Linked DNA regions of Homo sapiens: region 1 is linked to region 2. Evidence: fine-mapped expression QTL. A gene starts in region 2. The other region holds a variant in brackets. All regions are shown on one strand. Distances are from middle to middle. Region 1 holds the start of SNORD153 (small nucleolar RNA, C/D box 153). Region 2 holds the start of NCAPD3 (non-SMC condensin II complex subunit D3).

Region 1 (10,761 bases), 70 kb before region 2:
AATGTCTGTGTGTGAGACAAGCGTTCCGAAGGATTCTTCTCATGTGTCACGTTTGAGAAACTCTGCTCTAGGGTTGTTTTCTCCTGCAGTTTTGCCCCAGACCTACTTTAGCCTATTGACTTTTTAGTGATGAAACTTGGGAATTGACATTTTAACATCAAAATTGCATGCCAGGCGTGGTGGCTCACACTATAATCCTAGCACTCTGGGAGGCTGAGGCGGGTGGATCACCTGAGGTCAGGAGTTCAAGACCAGCCTGGCCAACATGCCAAAACTCTGTGTCTACTAAAAATACAAAAATTAGCCTGGTGTGGTGGCAGGCGCCTGTAGTCCCAGTAACTTGGGAGGCTGAGGCAGAAGGATCCCTTGAACCCGGGAGGCGGAGCTTGCAGTGAGCCGAGATTGCACCACAGAACTCCAGCCTGGGTGACGGTGACGGAGCAAGACTCTGTCTCAAAAAAAAAAAAAAAAAAACGATTGCAAGTTTACTTTTTGTTTTTGAGATGGAGTCTCGCTCTGTCACCCAGGCTGGAGTGCAGTGGCACAATCTCGGCTCACTGCAAGCTCCGCCTCCCGGGTTCACACCTTTCTCCTGCCTCAGCCTCCTGAGTAGCTGGGACTACAGGCACCTGCCAACACGCTCAGCCAATTTTTTGTGTTTCTAGTAGAGACGGGGTTTCACCACCTTAGCCAGGATGGTCTCGAATCTCTGACCTCGTGATCTGCCCACCTCGGCCTCCCAAAGTGCTGGGATTACAGGCGTGAGCCACCGCGCCCGGCCTGCAAGTTGATTTTTAAGTGTACATTCATCTTTGAGAACCAATACACTAGGATAAAGGAGATTTTTTTAAAACTTCCAAGTTACTTGGCTCTTGTTGATAAATTCCCTGCATAGTTTTCCATGTGTCGCTTGCTTGAAGGAACGGCTGCCAGAGCCCCATATGAAAGTGACCCAGTGCCTTTGCCCAGTGTATAGACATGAGAAAAGGGTTCCAGGGGGTTTCCTCTCAGAGGGCTTATAGATCGGAGGTCAGGCAGCCGGCAGAGACAAAGCTCTAGTTCTTACCTAGGATTCTTTACTTGTTTGTTTTTTGAGACAGATTCTTTAAGGCTTGAAGCTACCTTTCTTCCCCGCAGCAATCTGCAACAAAGGGAGGCCCTGGAAATTAGGGATTCTTTTCTTCTTGGGATCCTGGCTCCTAATCTTGTCCTCATAACCATTTCCTCCATAAGTAATCTCAGGCATTCAGCCAGAGGATTTTTAAGCCTACAGTGCCAAGCCCACTTTAATACACTTTTCAGTGCGACTGCATTTCAACTGTAGAAGTCTCAGTACTTTTCACGTGTGAAGTTAGGAGTTATGGTGTCCTATATGTTCTAGGCTAGAAGGATTGTAAGTGTTCTCTCTTCTAGCTGGGGTAGGCCTGAGGGGGCAGGGGGCAAGTGGGTTTGGGGTGAAGGAAGGAGGCACAGCAGGGCCAGGGCCTTTTTAAATAACAGATAGTGTGTATCATGGCTTCCACCAAACCTCCTTTTCTTCAGATGACCTGAACATTGGCGGAATTATTGGGGGGGTTCTGGTTGTCCTTGCTGTACTGGCCCTGATCACGTTGGGCATCTGCTGTGCATACAGACGTGGCTACTTCATCAACAATAAACAGGATGGAGAAAGGTGAGCCTGCCTTATGTGAAAAAAGGGAAGTTCAAGCTGGCAATAATATAACAACCCTGTTGCTAAACTGCTCTCTTCTCCTCATAGTTACAAGAACCCAGGGAAACCAGATGGAGTTAACTACATCCGCACTGACGAGGAGGTAATCATTTAGTAAACCTGGAAACCTAGGTGTACCCAGCAGGGAAAACAACATTCCCCCTTGGAAACCACACGGGTCTCCTGGGAAGATTTCTGAGTGATTGTGCAGCTCCTGAGCTCCTCAGCCCCTTCACAGTAACACACACACACACACACACACACACACACACACACACACTAATGGGATTTGTGCTTTGCAAGCGCTAGTGATGGTACTTTTTAAGAATGATTATTCCATCTGTATTTAGCCCATGTTAGACTTACTCCGTGTTTTTCCCTGCTTGCCACCAGGCCCCTTGATGGCTCTAACTGTGTGTTGGCTTTGCAGGGCGACTTCAGACACAAGTCATCGTTTGTGATCTGAGACCCGCGGTGTGGCTGAGAGCGCACAGAGCGCACGTGCACATACCTCTGCTAGAAACTCCTGTCAAGGCAGCGAGAGCTGATGCACTCGGACAGAGCTAGACACTCATTCAGAAGCTTTTCGTTTTGGCCAAAGTTGACCACTACTCTTCTTACTCTAACAAGCCACATGAATAGAAGAATTTTCCTCAAGATGGACCCGGTAAATATAACCACAAGGAAGCGAAACTGGGTGCGTTCACTGAGTTGGGTTCCTAATCTGTTTCTGGCCTGATTCCCGCATGAGTATTAGGGTGATCTTAAAGAGTTTGCTCACGTAAACGCCCGTGCTGGGCCCTGTGAAGCCAGCATGTTCACCACTGGTCGTTCAGCAGCCACGACAGCACCATGTGAGATGGCGAGGTGGCTGGACAGCACCAGCAGCGCATCCCGGCGGGAACCCAGAAAAGGCTTCTTACACAGCAGCCTTACTTCATCGGCCCACAGACACCACCGCAGTTTCTTCTTAAAGGCTCTGCTGATCGGTGTTGCAGTGTCCATTGTGGAGAAGCTTTTTGGATCAGCATTTTGTAAAAACAACCAAAATCAGGAAGGTAAATTGGTTGCTGGAAGAGGGATCTTGCCTGAGGAACCCTGCTTGTCCAACAGGGTGTCAGGATTTAAGGAAAACCTTCGTCTTAGGCTAAGTCTGAAATGGTACTGAAATATGCTTTTCTATGGGTCTTGTTTATTTTATAAAATTTTACATCTAAATTTTTGCTAAGGATGTATTTTGATTATTGAAAAGAAAATTTCTATTTAAACTGTAAATATATTGTCATACAATGTTAAATAACCTATTTTTTTAAAAAAGTTCAACTTAAGGTAGAAGTTCCAAGCTACTAGTGTTAAATTGGAAAATATCAATAATTAAGAGTATTTTACCCAAGGAATCCTCTCATGGAAGTTTACTGTGATGTTCCTTTTCTCACACAAGTTTTAGCCTTTTTCACAAGGGAACTCATACTGTCTACACATCAGACCATAGTTGCTTAGGAAACCTTTAAAAATTCCAGTTAAGCAATGTTGAAATCAGTTTGCATCTCTTCAAAAGAAACCTCTCAGGTTAGCTTTGAACTGCCTCTTCCTGAGATGACTAGGACAGTCTGTACCCAGAGGCCACCCAGAAGCCCTCAGATGTACATACACAGATGCCAGTCAGCTCCTGGGGTTGCGCCAGGCGCCCCCGCTCTAGCTCACTGTTGCCTCGCTGTCTGCCAGGAGGCCCTGCCATCCTTGGGCCCTGGCAGTGGCTGTGTCCCAGTGAGCTTTACTCACGTGGCCCTTGCTTCATCCAGCACAGCTCTCAGGTGGGCACTGCAGGGACACTGGTGTCTTCCATGTAGCGTCCCAGCTTTGGGCTCCTGTAACAGACCTCTTTTTGGTTATGGATGGCTCACAAAATAGGGCCCCCAATGCTATTTTTTTTTTTTAAGTTTGTTTAATTATTTGTTAAGATTGTCTAAGGCCAAAGGCAATTGCGAAATCAAGTCTGTCAAGTACAATAACATTTTTAAAAGAAAATGGATCCCACTGTTCCTCTTTGCCACAGAGAAAGCACCCAGACGCCACAGGCTCTGTCGCATTTCAAAACAAACCATGATGGAGTGGCGGCCAGTCCAGCCTTTTAAAGAACGTCAGGTGGAGCAGCCAGGTGAAAGGCCTGGCGGGGAGGAAAGTGAAACGCCTGAATCAAAAGCAGTTTTCTAATTTTGACTTTAAATTTTTCATCCGCCGGAGACACTGCTCCCATTTGTGGGGGGACATTAGCAACATCACTCAGAAGCCTGTGTTCTTCAAGAGCAGGTGTTCTCAGCCTCACATGCCCTGCCGTGCTGGACTCAGGACTGAAGTGCTGTAAAGCAAGGAGCTGCTGAGAAGGAGCACTCCACTGTGTGCCTGGAGAATGGCTCTCACTACTCACCTTGTCTTTCAGCTTCCAGTGTCTTGGGTTTTTTATACTTTGACAGCTTTTTTTTAATTGCATACATGAGACTGTGTTGACTTTTTTTAGTTATGTGAAACACTTTGCCGCAGGCCGCCTGGCAGAGGCAGGAAATGCTCCAGCAGTGGCTCAGTGCTCCCTGGTGTCTGCTGCATGGCATCCTGGATGCTTAGCATGCAAGTTCCCTCCATCATTGCCACCTTGGTAGAGAGGGATGGCTCCCCACCCTCAGCGTTGGGGATTCACGCTCCAGCCTCCTTCTTGGTTGTCATAGTGATAGGGTAGCCTTATTGCCCCCTCTTCTTATACCCTAAAACCTTCTACACTAGTGCCATGGGAACCAGGTCTGAAAAAGTAGAGAGAAGTGAAAGTAGAGTCTGGGAAGTAGCTGCCTATAACTGAGACTAGACGGAAAAGGAATACTCGTGTATTTTAAGATATGAATGTGACTCAAGACTCGAGGCCGATACGAGGCTGTGATTCTGCCTTTGGATGGATGTTGCTGTACACAGATGCTACAGACTTGTACTAACACACCGTAATTTGGCATTTGTTTAACCTCATTTATAAAAGCTTCAAAAAAACCCAAACATTGCTTCATTCTTTGTTATTTGCTCTTACGTTGGGTTTGTCTCTTCTTCCTAGCATTTCAGTGGTTAGGCATGCACACTAAAAATGCTATCAATCACCCATCCACCAGGGAAGTCAGTGCTGGGCAGGAGGTCAGCCTGTGTGCTCAAGAGCAGTGCTGCGCCTCTCCGCCACCGAGCCCACCTGTGTTGCGGTTCCCACTTGGGATGGCAGTGGGCAGATCTCAGTGGCATCCCATCCCCCAAACCAACCAACGCACATCATCACTTTGTACTTTTGCTTTTGTAATACTGGGATTAAAAAACAAACCAACTGCATTTCTTTCTGGATATTGTTGAACAAAAATAGCATTCAGTTTACCCACTAGTGCTAACAGAAGAGACTCAAGCTGTTCCCCCATCATGGGAGCAGCCCTTAACAGAGGGCTGCACAAATCGGCAGTGCTGCTCTGGGGAAGGCTGCAAAGCCATTTTTTCCCAAGAAGGGATGCTGTTCATGTCTGTTAGGGAAAGCACACCGCCTCTGCCTGGGCACAGATGAACTGCCCTTCAAGACAATCATCTTTTTTCTAATAGGGAAGATTTGGTTTCATTCCTCTAACAAACAAACATGCTTTATGTAAAATTAAAATGATTACCAATAAGAGCTCTGTTCTAAAAACAGAAAAATCCTATTGACTACTGGAAGGCTGTATTTATGCTAAACCTTTATTACTTTTAGAAAGCTGTACACTTTTTTAAAAAATTTGCACTTATAAATAATAGAAAAAATATTAGAATCAAAATTTCGTCATTACAGATGGGAAAATATGTACTATAAGGAATTCAAGTTAACAGAGGCTTGATTTATATAAAAGAAAGCTGCAGTTTTAAAGTTGTGTTCCTTAAAGACCAGATTATAGCTTATCTGAATGGGCTTGACACTTTCAAATGGAATAAAGTTACAATATTAAACAGATTAGGGTAAGAAAATCTAAATCTGGCACATCTCTATTATTTGACAGTGTTTAACCAAATACATCATACAGAATAGAAGGTGAGTGCCAGGCCCCTGAGGAGGAGCTCTCGTGTTCCACAGCAAAGCGCTGCCCAAGGACTGCGGGAAGTGATCCAGCTGCCTTCACACGGAGGACACGAGACTGCTTCCTCAAGGGCTCCTGCCTGCCTGGACACTGGTGGGAGGCGCTGTTTAGTTGGCTGTTTTCAGAGGGGTCTTTCGGAGGGACCTCCTGCTGCAGGCTGGAGTGTCTTTATTCCTGGCGGGAGACCGCACATTCCACTGCTGAGGCTGTGGGGGCCTAGGGAAAGGACATGTGCAGTCATTCTGGAACTCAGAAAAACCCTGACAGAAACATCCACCTCAAAAGGAACACTGCTAAACTTACGGTTTATCAGGCAGTGATAAACATAAGATGTCATTTCCTTGACTCCGGCCTTCAATTTTCTCTAAAAGGGAGTCAAACAAACACATTCAGCTTTCCCAGAACCTCAAAGGCAGTGCATCTATCAGCCCAGAAGGACACCAAGAACTTGCCTTTGGCTGACGACGGAGTCCGTGGTGTCCCGATGTAACTGACCCCTGCTCCAAACGTGACATCACTGATGCTCTCTGCATAAAGAGGAGACACCACTGAGTGAAAGCCGCGTGGTCTATCGGAGGTCTCTGTTCTAGTTGTCCGTGGGACGTAGGCAGGGTGTCCACATCAGTGTCCCAGCGGCGGCCCTCAGACCTCCACTGGACCCTGTCCCAGGGCCTGGCAGTGTTGAGGGCCCCTCCTGGGGATGCTCCTTTCCGTCTCTCTGACCCCCTTCTCTGACCCGCAGCCCTCAGGCACTCGGCTGGCCCCTGGGCCTCACTGTTCACGCCTCTGGCTTCCCTCCCGCCGTCTTCCATCATTGCCCCTGTCCCGGTGACCGCCCTGTCCCACTTACTACACCTCCTACTGTGGCTCACCCAGATTCCCTGAGGACACTTCAACTCCTTGCCTCTGCACCTCCACGCGTGCCTGCTGGTTTCCAGCCAGTGACTGGAGCATGCGCGCTGGAAATATGGCACCGTGAGCAGCTCCTCCACATGGAATCAGCAGCCAAGTCCTGTCCCTTCTACCTCCAGTCGCCGCCTCATCCTGTCCCGTCGTGCCACACTGGGAGCGGCTCAGTCCACCTCCCCCCTCGCCCTTGATTGTTCATGGCACCTACCCGCAATGAA[C/A]CCCCTCCAGTTTGCCCTCAGGAACAGGAGAACACAGTTGAGCAGATTCCACCGCAGCTTGGGTGTGAATTCTGGCTCAGTGTCTCACCAGCTGTGTGAGCTGCTCTGAGACCCTCAGGTTTCTTCATCTCTTAAGTGGGTATAAAAACATAGCTACCTCATTGGGGGGCTGCCAGGACTACATGAGGTTATCCACGTTGAGTGCTTAGCATCGTGCTGGCTGCAAGGGCAGTGCTCAAGAGATGTTAGCAGCCACTGTCATTTATTAGCAGTATCATCCCTGCATCACTGGAGTTATGTTTCATCAAGAAGCTGGTAAATTTACTGCCCTGCTTCAAGACACCTCAATCGCTGTGTTCCTAGGAGAGCCTGAAGTCCACCCTCAGTCTCAGCTGGTCCCAAGCTGCCTTTACAGACTCACCTGTTAGGCTCAGGTGCACGCGTGCACAAACACGTCCACCCTCCTGCGTCCTCTTCCTCAGCAGGCCCTGTCTGCACATTATGCTTCTCTGCACCCCCCCCCCCACCGCCCCATCTGCCTACACATGCCACCCTGTCTTGGAGGCCCGGGTGGTGCAGCCTCACCCCTCCTGGGTGGTGCAGCCTCGCCCCTCCTGGGTGGTGCAGCCTCGCCCCTCCTGGGTGGTGCAGCCTCGCCCCTCCTGGGTGGTGCTGTACCCAGTGCATAAGCTGCCACCAGCACACTCCCGGGAACAGCACGGGCTGGGCAGCTGCTTGCTGGTACCACTGAACCTGCTGCCCTTCTGCAAGCACATGCGAGGAGGCAGCTTCAGAGCGCTCCCCGTTCTCCACTTGGTGTCTTGAGTATGGACTGTGTCTTCCCATTTACAGTTCAAAGCTCATCAGCGCACTGCAGCTGTGTACCCGATGGCTACTTGAGTGTCACTAATAGACGATGGTAGAGAATTCCTCATCACTGCTAGATCTGCTTATTCTGTTTCGGTGAAGTCTCTCCTTGTGCTGTCACATGAAATTCCCTTCCTGACACACACACTGCTCTTCCTGTTTGGAAGCCCATATGCACTCCAGGAAATTAGTCTCCCATCTTTACAGAAGCCCGGGTGCGGGGGCTCTGACGTCCCCCATGCACTGTGCGTAGAATCGAAGGCAGCAGCGTCTGTGCCACCCGAATGGTAACAGTAACAGGGACTTGCTAAAACCCCCACAGATTTTCAGTTAAAATCCTCGCTCTGAAAATTGACTAATTTTCATTTCCATTTAGCAAAGCCACTGTGAATTGGTGCTGAACTGGGTGGCATCTTTCCTGCCAGCTTTGAAGAGCTGAGACACTTCCTGACAGTCTCCCCCACCTAAACTAAAAGTTGCCAAAAAGAATCTGGACGTATAAACCACAGAGAAAACAGAACTGAGTGCTTTTAAACTATCTAACAGTTCTCCCAGGAAGGGGAGACCTCCAGGCATTTCTTCCTGGTTCAGTATAAAGAGAGACGGACAGAGACTGCATCAGCAGGAATATTATGTCCAAGAGCCTGGAGCAAGAACAAGTACTCTACCAACTCAATGACACCGGGCGCCTGATTTCCAGCACAAAGCGTGGCTCCACACAGGCAGATGAGGGCGGCATGAACCCTCCACGCCAGGCTGCCCTGTGGAGAAACACGAGCTGCTAGGAAACAACCCAACACTGACATCAGGGACTCAGGATGAGCACAACGAAAATGAGATGCGTTCTCCCCGTTTCTTCAGCATATGGCACCTCACTGCCAAAATAGAAGCTCTTGGCACTCCTGAGCCAGGAACATCGAACACACAGCAAGCTCTAACACACAGAACATCGCACCTGTCCACGACGCAGGATCCCAAATTACCCACTGCCTTTAATGACAAATGCCGTCATGATTCGGTTGTCGTCTGAGGGTGGGGGTGGGATAAACTCCCTTCAAAGGGGGACCTGGATGAAAATTACCTCTAACCTGTTAACTATTCTAAGAGATCACAGCATCAGTGTGACAGAACCAAACAAGCAAGTAGCTAGAATACAGCAGGTGCTCCACACACATGAGCTGACTGAAGCAGTGACTAAACGAACGGCAGGACACCTTGCTGCTCTGTTACCAGGAAGAGCACCTTAGCACGCTCTCATCTTCCCCTGCAGTCAGGACTAGGAGACAGGCTGGAGAAGGGGCACAAGAGTTGGGACCAGAAGGCCTGGGCTCAGCGCCCAGCTCTGCCCTCCCAGAAGTCTCCGGGAGGAGATCTCTGACACCTCCCAGGTTCCAGGCACTGTGGTCTGTGGAAACAGTGAGGAGTGGAATGGCCAGGGACGAGCGGGGCTGGATGCAGCTTGCTGAGGGCACTGTGCACAGCCGGGCGCAGAGCGAGGGGCACACAGGGACACGGCGGCAGGGCCTAGCCACTACTCCACAGATTTAGGACAGGAAGCATTTCTTCTTCCTGTAAGAGTTTTCTCAAAATAATGGTTTTTATGAGGTTTGACACAATATGAAGCTATCACACAAGATAATAGGAAAAGAATACTCAACTCTCCTAACTCACCTCTGTTTTGAAATCAAAGGAAAAGCACAAACAGTAGGAAAAAACATGGAGGGGAATGAGACACAGGCTCCGAGCAGGGGTCCCCGGGTCTCTGGTCTTGGCAGTTGCAGAGCGTGCATGGTACCTGCTGGTGCTGACGTCTGCCCGCCCTGGGAGCAGGCCCACCCAGCAGCGCCCAGTGCACCCGGACAGCCCAGAGACACGGAGGGCCGCCTCCAGAAGGCACCACTGGGTCAGTCACCCAACCTACCTGTGCCTCAACGGCATTGTCTGCTCCGCGGGCCACTGTGGTGTTTGACTGACTGAATGTAACGACACTGGAACAACATACTCGGTCAGTGCTCATGGATCAAGCGACCGTGGTCACTGTGAAATACTCCACCTCAGCAATGCACTCATGGTTCTGACCATCAGAACTATCCTGCACCGGAAGGAGTTTTACTGCGACTCTAGCAAACACATCACGAATGCAGGAGAGACTGAGGAGAAGCCCACGTGTTCCGATCAGTTACTCACTCTCGGGGGTGCTGATGGCCCGCTTGGTCACGTGCTCAATCTCGCCATTCGACTCTTGCTCCAAACTGTATGAAGACACTAGAACAGAAAAGGTGCTGCTATCCAGAAATACCCCCAAACAATAACGAAGAGCAAAACAACCACATGAGAAAACATATCTGCAAGACGTAAAGTCAAAATCACTAGTGTTTACAATTTTCTTATAAAGAGGCAATTCAGGAAGAAATACAAATAAATGATAAACATGAGAAAAAATGTCCATTCTCATTAGGATTCAAAAAAATAAAAGAGTCTAACTTGGCATAAGTGATAGAGGACAGTTTGACACTATCCAAAGTTTTTAAATATCCATGGCCTTTGACTGCTGGGAATTAATCCCAAGGATTACATACATACAAGGCTATATGTACAAGGATGTTTACTGTGATAGTATTTGTATGGAAAAATTGAAAATCAACATTTCAAAGAACAGGATAGTAATAAATCAGTTATTTCCACAGCCACAATGCTATAAAGCCACTGAAAGCAAAGGTTGGAAAGAAAAGTTCATGGAAGCTGTCTACTACATCTACTACATCTGACTTAAGAATGCAGGGAAACAGGTCATAAAACAATGCACGCACAGATCACAATTCCATAAACAAAACAAAACACGTGTGTGTAAGAGGAACAGAATAGCTGGAGGAAGGAATGCCTCACTGCTATGGGTGAGTTTCATATTTCACTCTATTTTCCAAATCTCCTAGAA
Region 2 (10,098 bases):
CTCATGCCTGTAATCCCAGCACTTTGAGAGGCCAGGGCAGGAGGACTGCTTGAGCCCAGGAGTTTGAGAACAGCCAGGGCAACAAAGCAAGACCTTGTCTCCACAAAAAATAAAAAATTAGCTGGGCGTGGTGGCACACACCTGTAGTCCCAGCTACTCAGGAGGGTGAGGTGGGAGGCTCATGTGAGCCCAATAAGTTGAGGCTGCAGTAAGCTTTGACTGTGCCACTGCATTCCAGCCTGGGTGACAGAGCAAGACCCTGGTCTCAAAAAAAAAAAAGGGGGGGGGGGGAAGAAATCATCTCCTAACTTTACAGTGTCACATCCTCATTCCTAATGCCACCTGCACCTCCACTTCACACACGAGGGTGATCGATCACCCTAAACCATCTGCTCACCAGGGCTCTGCATATGGGGTCACCTTGGCCCCATGTGATCCCATGGCTGCTGTCTAGTCTGGGCGTCAGTGACCCTGCACTCCCTACATGTGACTGCTCCTCTGCAGACCCCGTCCAATCAGCTCTCCATTTCTGTCCTGGCTGCTTCTCACCCTCGGTGATCTCATGCATCACTGTGCTTCAACCCATACCTCAATTTAAAGAACTCTCTTCTCTCTCCTGGTCTCACATTTCTACTACCTGTTAAACTTCCCAAGGATCTCCTGACAGAATCTCAAGTTCAGAAGTCTAAACAGAACTGTTTCTCCATTTGACCTTGCTCTTTTTCCCTTATTCCCCACCTTGGTTAACAATATCATCATCTTCCTAGTTTTGAAACCCTGGGGATCACTGACTTCTTTCTTTTTCTAATTCCCTATGCCCAGTCAGTTTAGCACTTCACACCATGTTTTTAAGATATCTCAAAAGGGCTTCCTAGTTCACAAGGCCCTATTAATTCTAATTCCAAAAATGTCCCTAGTTTTTAGTCTTCCTTTCCAGTTCCCAAAATTGTAACTCCGGATCATGCCATTATTACTCATAACACCTGGATCACCAATACAGTCTCCCAAGGGCTCTCCCTGCACACAATTTTTCCCACTTCAGTCCACCTACTGTCAAGAACGTCTGCTTAAAACAGATCTATTCATGTTACCTATCTATTGCCCACTGTAACCTCTTTCACACAGGCTGCTTGAGGATTAAATGAGTTAATACATGCAGGACGCTTAGAACAAAACCTCATACACACTCTACCAAACATGTTCAAACTCCACTGCTGAACCTCACGTAAAGCTACCCGTGACCTACCCTTACTCTACCTTACCATCCCGTTCCACCACACTTTTTCTGTATGCCTCTTGACACTTCCTGCGTGTTCCCATTGGGTGGCTCCTTCACTAGGACTGCCTTACAACCCAAGCTTCTGCTAGTCATCTGTGAAGATTCGCTGCTGGCCACTTTCTTTCTGGAACTTTCCCAACCCTACCATGCTCCCTTTTTCACACCCTATGCAACAAATCCGCACCTCTCTTGGAGCATTTTTCACAGTGTGGTTCGTAGAATATTTCCAGGCGCCCAAATGCACAGTGGCACTGAACTCTCCACCCCCTGCAACTGCATGTGGCTGCTAGACCTACTTTGGCTAGTGTTCAAATGTCCACTCTTCCTCCCTGAGGTCCCTGGGGAGGACCTCAACCTAGGGAGATTGTATCGTAATCCCCACTCTGTCAACTCAGGTACTTAAGGCAGTGCTTAGTGTTATGCTGAAGGAATGTTTAATTAGATGATTTAATTTTGTGATGTGAAACTTGGAAGTGAATTTTTTTTTGTTCATTTAAATGTTTCAGAGATGTTAATATCCAATTAGCTTTTGTTCTGTTTCCCAACCCTTTGGTTTTTTTTGAAAACTAACAACCTAAATATTAATAATAATTTATATTTCTATGCATTGGATAGAACTCAATATTTACAGGAACTGTTTGGACAAACCTGTTAATTCAACTAGTCATTCCTCAGTTTAATAATATCAGATTTTCTTTTTTTGTGAGACAGAGTCTTGCTCTGTCGCCCAGGCTGGAGTGCAGTGGCGTGATCTCGGCTCACTGTAACCTCCGCCTCCTGGGTTCAAGCAATTATCTGCCCCAGCCTCTCGAGTAGCTGGGATTACAGAAGCCCGCCACCACAACCGGCTAATTTTTGTATTTTTAGTAGAGATGGGGTTTCACCATCTTGGTCAGGCTGGTCTTGAACTCCTGACTTCGTGATCCACCCACCTCGGCCTCCCAAAGTACTGGGATTACAGGCATGAGCCACCATGCCTGGTCGCAGATTTTCTTAAAGTTAAGGTTAAGGCATGTCTGAATTGTTATTTGCATTTTCCTTGGTCTAGTTTTCTTGTTTTTGCCTTTATATTTTTCCTTTTTTTTTTTCCTTCTGAGATGGGGTTTTGCCATGTTGCCCAGGCTAGTCTCAAACTCCTGAGCTCAAGCAACTGGCCAGCCTCAGCCTCTCAAAGTGCTGGGATTACAGACGTAAGACACCACACCCGGCCTTATACTTTTCCTTTAATTTGCTATTGTAAAAAACAGTCGTGTCTTAAAAAAAAAAAATCAGACAAGTACCTTGAAGCTTTTGGAGGAAAGCTCTTAGGATATTCCAATAAATTAACCACATTCTTTATGTTACTCATATTGTACTCCCTGTGAACTGTACACCAAGAAAGCTAAGCTTCAGATTATAATAATGACTTTCATCTTCTACTTCTAACACCAAACTTTGGCTAGTTTGTTTTTATATTTTTACCTCCATAGATCCATGTTCTCCAGTAGCAAAGGGTAAAAGGCTTTCATAGAGTTTTGTGAATGCAGCCAATCCAGTCTCTATGATCTCTGCTTCTATGCTGGGATCCAAAGGCTCAGTCTCTGTGAAATCCAGTTCCCACACTGTGTCAACCCATTCTAGGGGAAAATGCAATGAAATGTGTAAGTACTCTGTAACAAGTAAAAAAACTAGTCACCTTTAGATTCCAGGTGTGTTCAAGAGGAGAAAAGTTTACTAGTCACGATTCACATTTAACTTGTTTTAATAACATAGGTGTAGCATAATAAAAGAAAACCAGAAAAGGTTAAGAGAATCTTAAATCACAACTGACACTGACTATTAAGCTAATCATCTTCTAAAAATATAAAGGAGGAAATACTTTTCAGATACAAGAGTTTTGGGAAAGGACACTTCAAAACATTCAGTGATCAGGCTTTCCCACATGTTCAATCTAGAGAAGAAACAGAGGTTAATCAGATTGCCCACGAGGTTCCTTTGTGAAAATATCATAACCAAGTTAATAAGTGGAAATAAAATATAGAGCACTTTATTGGGCCCTTGGACAATCATGTAGCATTTAAAAAACATATATAATTTCTCCAGGAAGTTTAAAATAGAAGAGGCAACCCAGATTCAGACTCCCAGGAATACTTGGTGACTTTAAAACACACTGATTGAAAGAATGTACATTGAGAGGAGGGGTATTAAGACAGCACGCTGGCTGGATTCCACCAATCTCTCTTAACTCTAAATCTTCCCATTCTTTTCTTTTTCTTTTTTTTTTGGATAAACTTTTTTTTTTAACTTAAAGTTTTTGGGTACATGTGCACAACATGCAGGTTTGTTACATAGGTATACACGTACCATGGTGGTTTGCTGTACCCATCAACCCGTCATCTACATTAGGTATTTCTCCTAATGGTATCCCTCCCCTATCCCTCCATCCCCCCTTCCCATTCTTTTCTAATACACTATATTTCTTCAGTGTTGTCATTGTCACTTTCCCAAACTAAAATTAGGACTAGATGGAAATGTGGACATCTCAAATTATTAATCAGGTGTTCCTTCAAATTAATATTAAAAGTATTTGTTCACCACTGATTTAGAGAAGTTGGGCAAGGTATAAATAAGGAAAAAACAGAGATGGGAGCATTACACTGCACTCGGCAAATGAAAATGAAAGGCCTTACACTCAACTAGTTCCATCCTTAGAATACAATCTGGTCATCATCTTTTGTCACTTGAACTTGACCCTGAAGGAGGGGGTCTCTGTACCCTAAGTGGCTATGCACAGCATTCCTTCCAAAGACATGGAATATGCTGCCTGAAAGAAGATCTGAAAAATACAATTGTTTCTTTCCAAATTTCCAGTAATGTTTTAAAGGTCATTATAGACCACAGCAAAAGTTATCTCACTCCTTCTTTTGGTTTTGCTTATGACAGTTCCCTACTGTAAATACCATCAAATCTAATTTGGATGGCAGTAACTGGCCCTGTTATCTACCATTTGGTCACAGAAGTCTTCAGTGTTGATTGTTGAGTGAGAGTATAGGAGACACTGAGTTAGTCTTTTTCCCTCAGTATCTTTACACTATTCAAATCTCTCACTACCTATTTTCTCAGCTGTCGAATGCAGGTAACTTCTGCTCTGCTACTTCACTTAGGATGGAAGAAGAGGAAGAAATACATCACCTATTCACTCAACAAACACTTTGAGAAAATACTAGGGAAGCCACTTATACTTCTAGGGATATAAAGATGAATACTAGAGGGTTCTTGTCCACAAAGATCTCAACATTTCACACTTAGGATACCAAAAAAAGCAGCCTATGATAGAAGAGAGGCCACTGAATTTTGAGTCAGAACGAGGCAAATATCCTGACTTGATCACTTACACATAATTAGTCTCTCCTTCATCATTGGAAATACAGGATTTTTGTGAAACATAATGTGTATAAAGGCCCTAACAATGTGCTAGCCACATAAAAAACAGTCAATAGATGGTATTTATTATTTTTGCTATGGATGAGTGTTAAAATAATAGATATGTAAAATGTAAAATGCTACAGAGCTTAATAGGGAATAGTACTGGGGGAGGAGGGAGAGGAATAAGATGATTCTTCAATTGGACCTGAATGTAAGAGTTTTGCCAGGCAAATAAATGCAGAAAAGTGCCTCCCAGCAAGCACAGTGTAACAAAGCACACAAAGGGAAAGAAATTAAAGTGTTTCTAAATGAACAAAATTGTTACAGTGTTTGCTTGTGGGTATTAGTATCTGTTCAGCAGTTATTATGTGGCAAGTACAAATTTATCTTTACAAAAACCCCTGTGAGGTAGATATTGTACTCCCCATTTGACAGATCAGAAAACAGGGGTTTAGCAAGGATAAACAACCTGCACGGTAATACATGGATGCTATGGGGTAGAGCCAAGGGAACAATCCAAGTGTGTCCGACTCCAAAGGTTATGCTCTTGGAAAATCAAACTGGAGAGAATGGCAGCTCTTATAAAGCATGCCAAGGATGTGGTCATTTATTTAGGAAACAAAGGGGAAACATTAAAGGTGTACAGGCTTGACACATTCAAAGCTGTGTTTTCAAAAGTCGTTCTGCAAAAGTGTGGGGGATGGGCTGGCACAGTTAACATCAGAAAGCAGCTAAAATACTCCTGCAATTGCTCGAGGCTATGATGAAGGCAGCAGCATCAGGAATGGAGCGGGGCTGCCCTGAGACACCTCAGAGGCAGGACAGTGGTAGTGGGCATGAAAGGGGAAGCAGAAATGCCATGACTCCTGGGTTGGTGGCTTGGATGGTGCCATTAGCAGGCTTTGGGAATCCCATTTTCACTCATGTGACGTTTGATGATGTCTGCATGTGAGACATCCAGTGGAACCTATGAACATGAAGTTCAAGAAATAAGTCTGGCGGAAGAAAGAGATTTGCAATTTAAAACCATCTTAATAGGTAAGAATAGATAGGTGCACGAAGACACGCACAGGAAGAAGGGGAAGGCCGAGAAAACAGATGCACAGGCGCTAGAAGAGACTGGCCAACATTCGCTTATTCTAAGGGTGGCCTGGCCGGCTTGAGCCCCCACGGGAAACCTGGCTAGCCGCAATCCTGGCGTGGCACGGCCCTGGGGACCCCAGGCACCGCCGACAGCCGGGCGCCCCCACCCCGCCCCCACCGGCACCCCGGCCCGGGCTTAGGCATCGTCGGGGACGCATAGGACCCTCGCCCTGGCCCCCGGGCCTCCCGGCTGCATCTGCTCACCGAGTCTAAGATCCAGCGGACACCAGGGCTGCAGGCCGCTACCAAGGCCCCGCAACGCCACCATGATCCCAGGGCACCGGCTCGCCGCCGCCGTGCTCAACTTTCAAAGCTCGCTCCCGCGCGCGCGCCGAGTCGTTCCTGTGGACCAATCACAACGTACAGAATTTCCCACTGGCCAACCACCGCGCCGAGCCGTTTCCATTCGCTCAACCAATCACCGGCGTCGTCCGCCGCACGCTCAGAGAACTGGGCGGGCCGAAAAGTGGAAGCCAAACAAGGCTCCTGCGGGTGTTCCGCTAATTCGTTCGAGAAGGAGCCAGGGCCTGAGTTAAACCCTAACAGCGTTTTTCCCGCCTCGTTTTTCTTCAATGGGGGAAAATCTAAAGGGTATCTGAGATAGGGTACTTCCGGTAGTAACTGTCACCTTTGCCCTCGTCAGGCGACATTTCGCGTGCGTGTCAAAGGGCTGCCTTTCCCGTCAGCACTCGAACAGCGTAATATCCGAATGTGAAAGGCAGCCCAACGTGTATCGAGCTAAAGTAATAAGGGAAAAGTAGCCGAAAGCACTCCGAGAAGACAAGACAACTGCAGTTCTGTAGGGACTGCGCGGCACGCGTGGGCCCAGAGCCTGTCCCAGCGAGGTAGCAGCTGCCATGCCGACCGCTGGAGCGCCGGCCGCGCTCTCCCTGCGCATGCGCAGCGAGCTCTCCTCCGGGCTGCCGGGAGTCCCAGGAGCGTTAGGGGGTGCGCCTGCGCGCCGCTGCTCCAGCGCATCCGGGCTGGAGCTCGCCCGCCCCCTCCCCCGCCCGGAGCCGCCGAAGCGCCTCGGTGCGTTGCACCGCCGGAGGCTGGGCAGCTCGCAGCGCTGCTCGGCGCTGGACCCCACCCGGCAGGCGCAGGCCACCCACACCCGGCTCTGTGCGGCTGCCCCCCGCAGCATTGCACGGCCGACCCTCGCCCGCCCACTGCCACCGGCCGCGGGACTGGCTGGGACTGGCTCGGCCGAGGGCACTGCTCCTCGGTGCATTGCTGCTCGGGCGCCGCAGCCCGCAGCCGCCAGCCTCCCCCGGCCGTGCCCCTCCCCCGTGGAGCCGGCTGTCCGTCGGCGCCCACTGCCCGGCGGCAGCGGCGGAGCCAGGCAGCCCCGCGGCGGCCGAGCGCGCTCGCGCATCGGGCCCTCTGGCCTTCTTTACCTAGGGCAGCCCGCGCCCCGGTGCGAGGGAGCGGTCCTTACCGAGACCCGCCCGGCCCGGCGGTGCGATGAGCTTCTTCGGCTTCGGGCAGAGCGTGGAGGTGGAAATCCTTCTGAACGATGCAGAGAGTAGGAAGCGGGCCGAGCACAAGACGGAGGACGGGAAGAAGGAGAAATATTTCCTCTTCTACGACGGGGAGACGGTCTCCGGGAAGGTGAGCCTTGCCCTCAAGAACCCCAACAAGCGGCTGGAGCACCAGGGCATCAAGATCGAGTTCATCGGGCAGATCGGTGAGTCGACCCCCGGGACCCCCTCCCCCAGCGCCGACAGCCGGCCGGGGAGCAGGGTGATTCAGGGCCCAGCTCCTCCGGCGAGGCCTGTCACAGTCGCTTGTCAACTGCAGTCTGAGGCCTGGGGTTCAGCTACAAGTCCCGCCCGTGGGCGACTCCCCCTGCGTTACTGTCCTCCCTGCCAAAAGTGACAGCGCGCTGCCAGGGAGATGGGGACGGCGAGGGCGGGAGGAAGCGCCCTGCTGTGCCTCGTGGGATGGGCACCTTGCCTATGGGTTCTCCCCATTGTCTCCGGCATGCACTCGGCTTTGCTTCTTGTCCCCAGGATTTCTGGGTGAGGTGCTCTGGCCATAGCCTGCAGGTGGGTTTGTTAGGGGGAGACCGCTCTGCCAATACTGGCTTTCCCATCGCCCGGCCATCTGCAACTGCCAGACGCAAAGTGAGGCTCGTCCACCGAGCCCCACTTCCCAGAGCCCGCACCAACCCGTTTTTCTCTTTAGATGTGGTGTGAGAGAGCTAACCAGTTCTCTCTTACCTCACCTCAGCCCTGAACTACCTATGCTTGTACATGTTTCCAGAAAGAAGACCCATAATCTTCAGTCTAAATCTGACTACCTAGGCTGCGTTTCTTAGACTTCTTTATTAGAATGCAAGTTTTCAGTTACCACATTTTCTGTTTAAAGACAAAGAAATGGTGTTTCTAAAAACCACAATTAAGTGATCAGAGTTTCTCAATGCTTTAAACATGATTATTAATCATTGGAACTAGACAGCGCCAGGCACAGTGGCTGATGCCTACAATCCCAGCACTTTGAGAGGCTGAAGTGGGAGGATTGCTTGAGGCCAGGAGTTGGAGACCAGCCTGGGCAATATAGCAAGACCTGCCTCTACCCCCAAAAATTTTTTTGTAATTAGCTGGTCGTGGTGGTGCTTGCCGGTAGTCCTAGCTCCTCGGGGGGCTAAGATGGGAGGATTGTTTGAACCCAGGAGTTCCAGGCAGCAGTGAGCTGTGATAACACCACAGCACTCCAGCCTGGGTGACAACCAGCAAGACCCTGTCTCAAAAAAATAAACAAATAAACAAATAAGAACTAGACAGTAAAAGGCAGTAATGGTAAAGTGATTTGGGGAGCTCCCAGTCAAGACTGGGTCGTCTCCAATTCTAAGCCTTATTTAGACTCTTGTGTATTATTAAAATGCTTGGGTACTTTTAAAATAAGTTGTTTTTGTCGTTAGGTTAGGAGTAGAATCACAGTAAATACCCTGTGAGCTACACACCTCTGGTAGAGAATCCATACCGATACCACACACTGCATACATAACTCTGTTTTTAGAGACTTCCTTGGGGAATCTTTGTTAAACTCTCTTATCCTGAGAGTTTAGCAAAGAATTTGCCGTCTTTTTTTCACAGAGGCAGGAAACACGGAGACACAGGTAGGAGAAACCCTGGGAAAAGGAGGCCTTGTGGCCTGGCTCTTGGGTTCACTGCTCAGCCTCAAGCATTTTGCCTCTGGTATTTAAGAACATGAAATCAGGTTGAAGACTGGCTGATCTTACAGGAAGCTCTTTGTTGTTATTTTAAAGCCAGAATATGAAAGGTCTTAGTGTACCAGAAAAGGGGCCGAAGAGTGAGTTCCATGCCTTCTGCTTTCCTGCTTCTGGGTTCAATGGTGGGGTAGATGGCAAGGTTCCTCAGTAGCAGCACTGTGATGTCTGGCATCGTTTGGCATGTTGTCATGGGATGTTTAGCAGCATTCCCAGCCTCTACTGACCAGACAACAGTAGCATCCCCCACTTGCGACCACAAAAATGTCTTCAGATATTGCTGTATATCCTCTGGAGGGTAAAATCATCTCTAGCAAAGAACCCCAGGATAAACAGGATGAGTCCAAAGCATATTATGCTACGCATAGTAAATAGTCGAGAAATCCTTGCCTATTGAGCAAGGTATTTTTTAGTAGCAGTTTTAAAGTTATTGCATTGATTCTTTGGCTCCATAATAATAATTAGTGTTGGCAGGCATGTTTAGTCTGTGTCTATACCATCACTCCCAGATGGTGGTACCTTACCAGTATGTGAAAGATAACCCAGAATGTCTTCTGCCCCAGACAGTGTGAAATTAGCTGTTCTAGGAACCGTGTCAAGGCCTTCCTCTGGTCTAAATGAAAGGGAGTTGAAGAAACTGCTTGCTGTTCCTGCCCCACCTGATTTCTTGTCTATCTCCTTACTCCTGAGACATCCATCATCCCTGCTGAATTTTCTCAGAACCTTTTGTTGCTTCCACTAGTAACTCTTCCCGGGCCCTTGGCCACCCTGCACTGAGTTGACCATGAGACTGGGGGAATTTAGCCACTCTCTGGGCCTCGGCTTTCTCAGCTACCAAGCAAGGAAAATAACATCACTTGGTGAGAATGTTGGGCATGCCAGGGGATCATGCATGACCCTTATAGAGGGTTCCTTTATAAAATTATGGTAGTTGTAGTAAAATGTTTCCATTTCACAAATTGAGTTATCACCCACTGGCTTGCTGCTCTTCCTCCTGTACCTGTTTTACCTGAAGAAGATCGCCCTGTCTACTGATAAG

Evidence for each region. PIP is the estimated chance that this variant, and not a neighbour inherited with it, causes the effect.
Region 1: its variant is fine-mapped to the expression of NCAPD3 in whole blood (TOPMed, PIP 0.98).

Annotation. Positions count from the first base shown.
Region 1 is chr11:134,147,005-134,157,765 of GRCh38, forward strand. JAM3 (junctional adhesion molecule 3) reads left to right here. Exons shown (of 9, transcript NM_032801.5): 7 at 1,543-1,672; 8 at 1,760-1,814; 9 at 2,142-4,997. The coding sequence ends at 2,177. NCAPD3 (non-SMC condensin II complex subunit D3) reads right to left here. Exons shown (of 35, transcript NM_015261.3): 32 at 10,014-10,091; 33 at 6,285-6,359; 34 at 6,136-6,196; 35 at 3,109-6,048. The coding sequence ends at 5,940. It overlaps SNORD153 (small nucleolar RNA, C/D box 153), which reads right to left and starts at 4,359; the gene lies at 4,284-4,359. RefSeq lists an enhancer at 10,746-10,761. The variant C/A (reference allele first, on the strand shown) is at 6,960.
Region 2 is chr11:134,217,832-134,227,929 of GRCh38, forward strand. NCAPD3 (non-SMC condensin II complex subunit D3) reads right to left here and starts at 6,136. Exons shown (of 35, transcript NM_015261.3): 1 at 6,032-6,136; 2 at 2,741-2,895. The coding sequence starts at 6,095. VPS26B (VPS26 retromer complex component B) reads left to right here and starts at 6,840. Exons shown (of 6, transcript NM_052875.5): 1 at 6,840-7,514. The coding sequence starts at 7,292. RefSeq lists enhancers at 6,577-6,626, 7,417-7,476, 7,577-7,726 and a silencer at 6,747-7,216.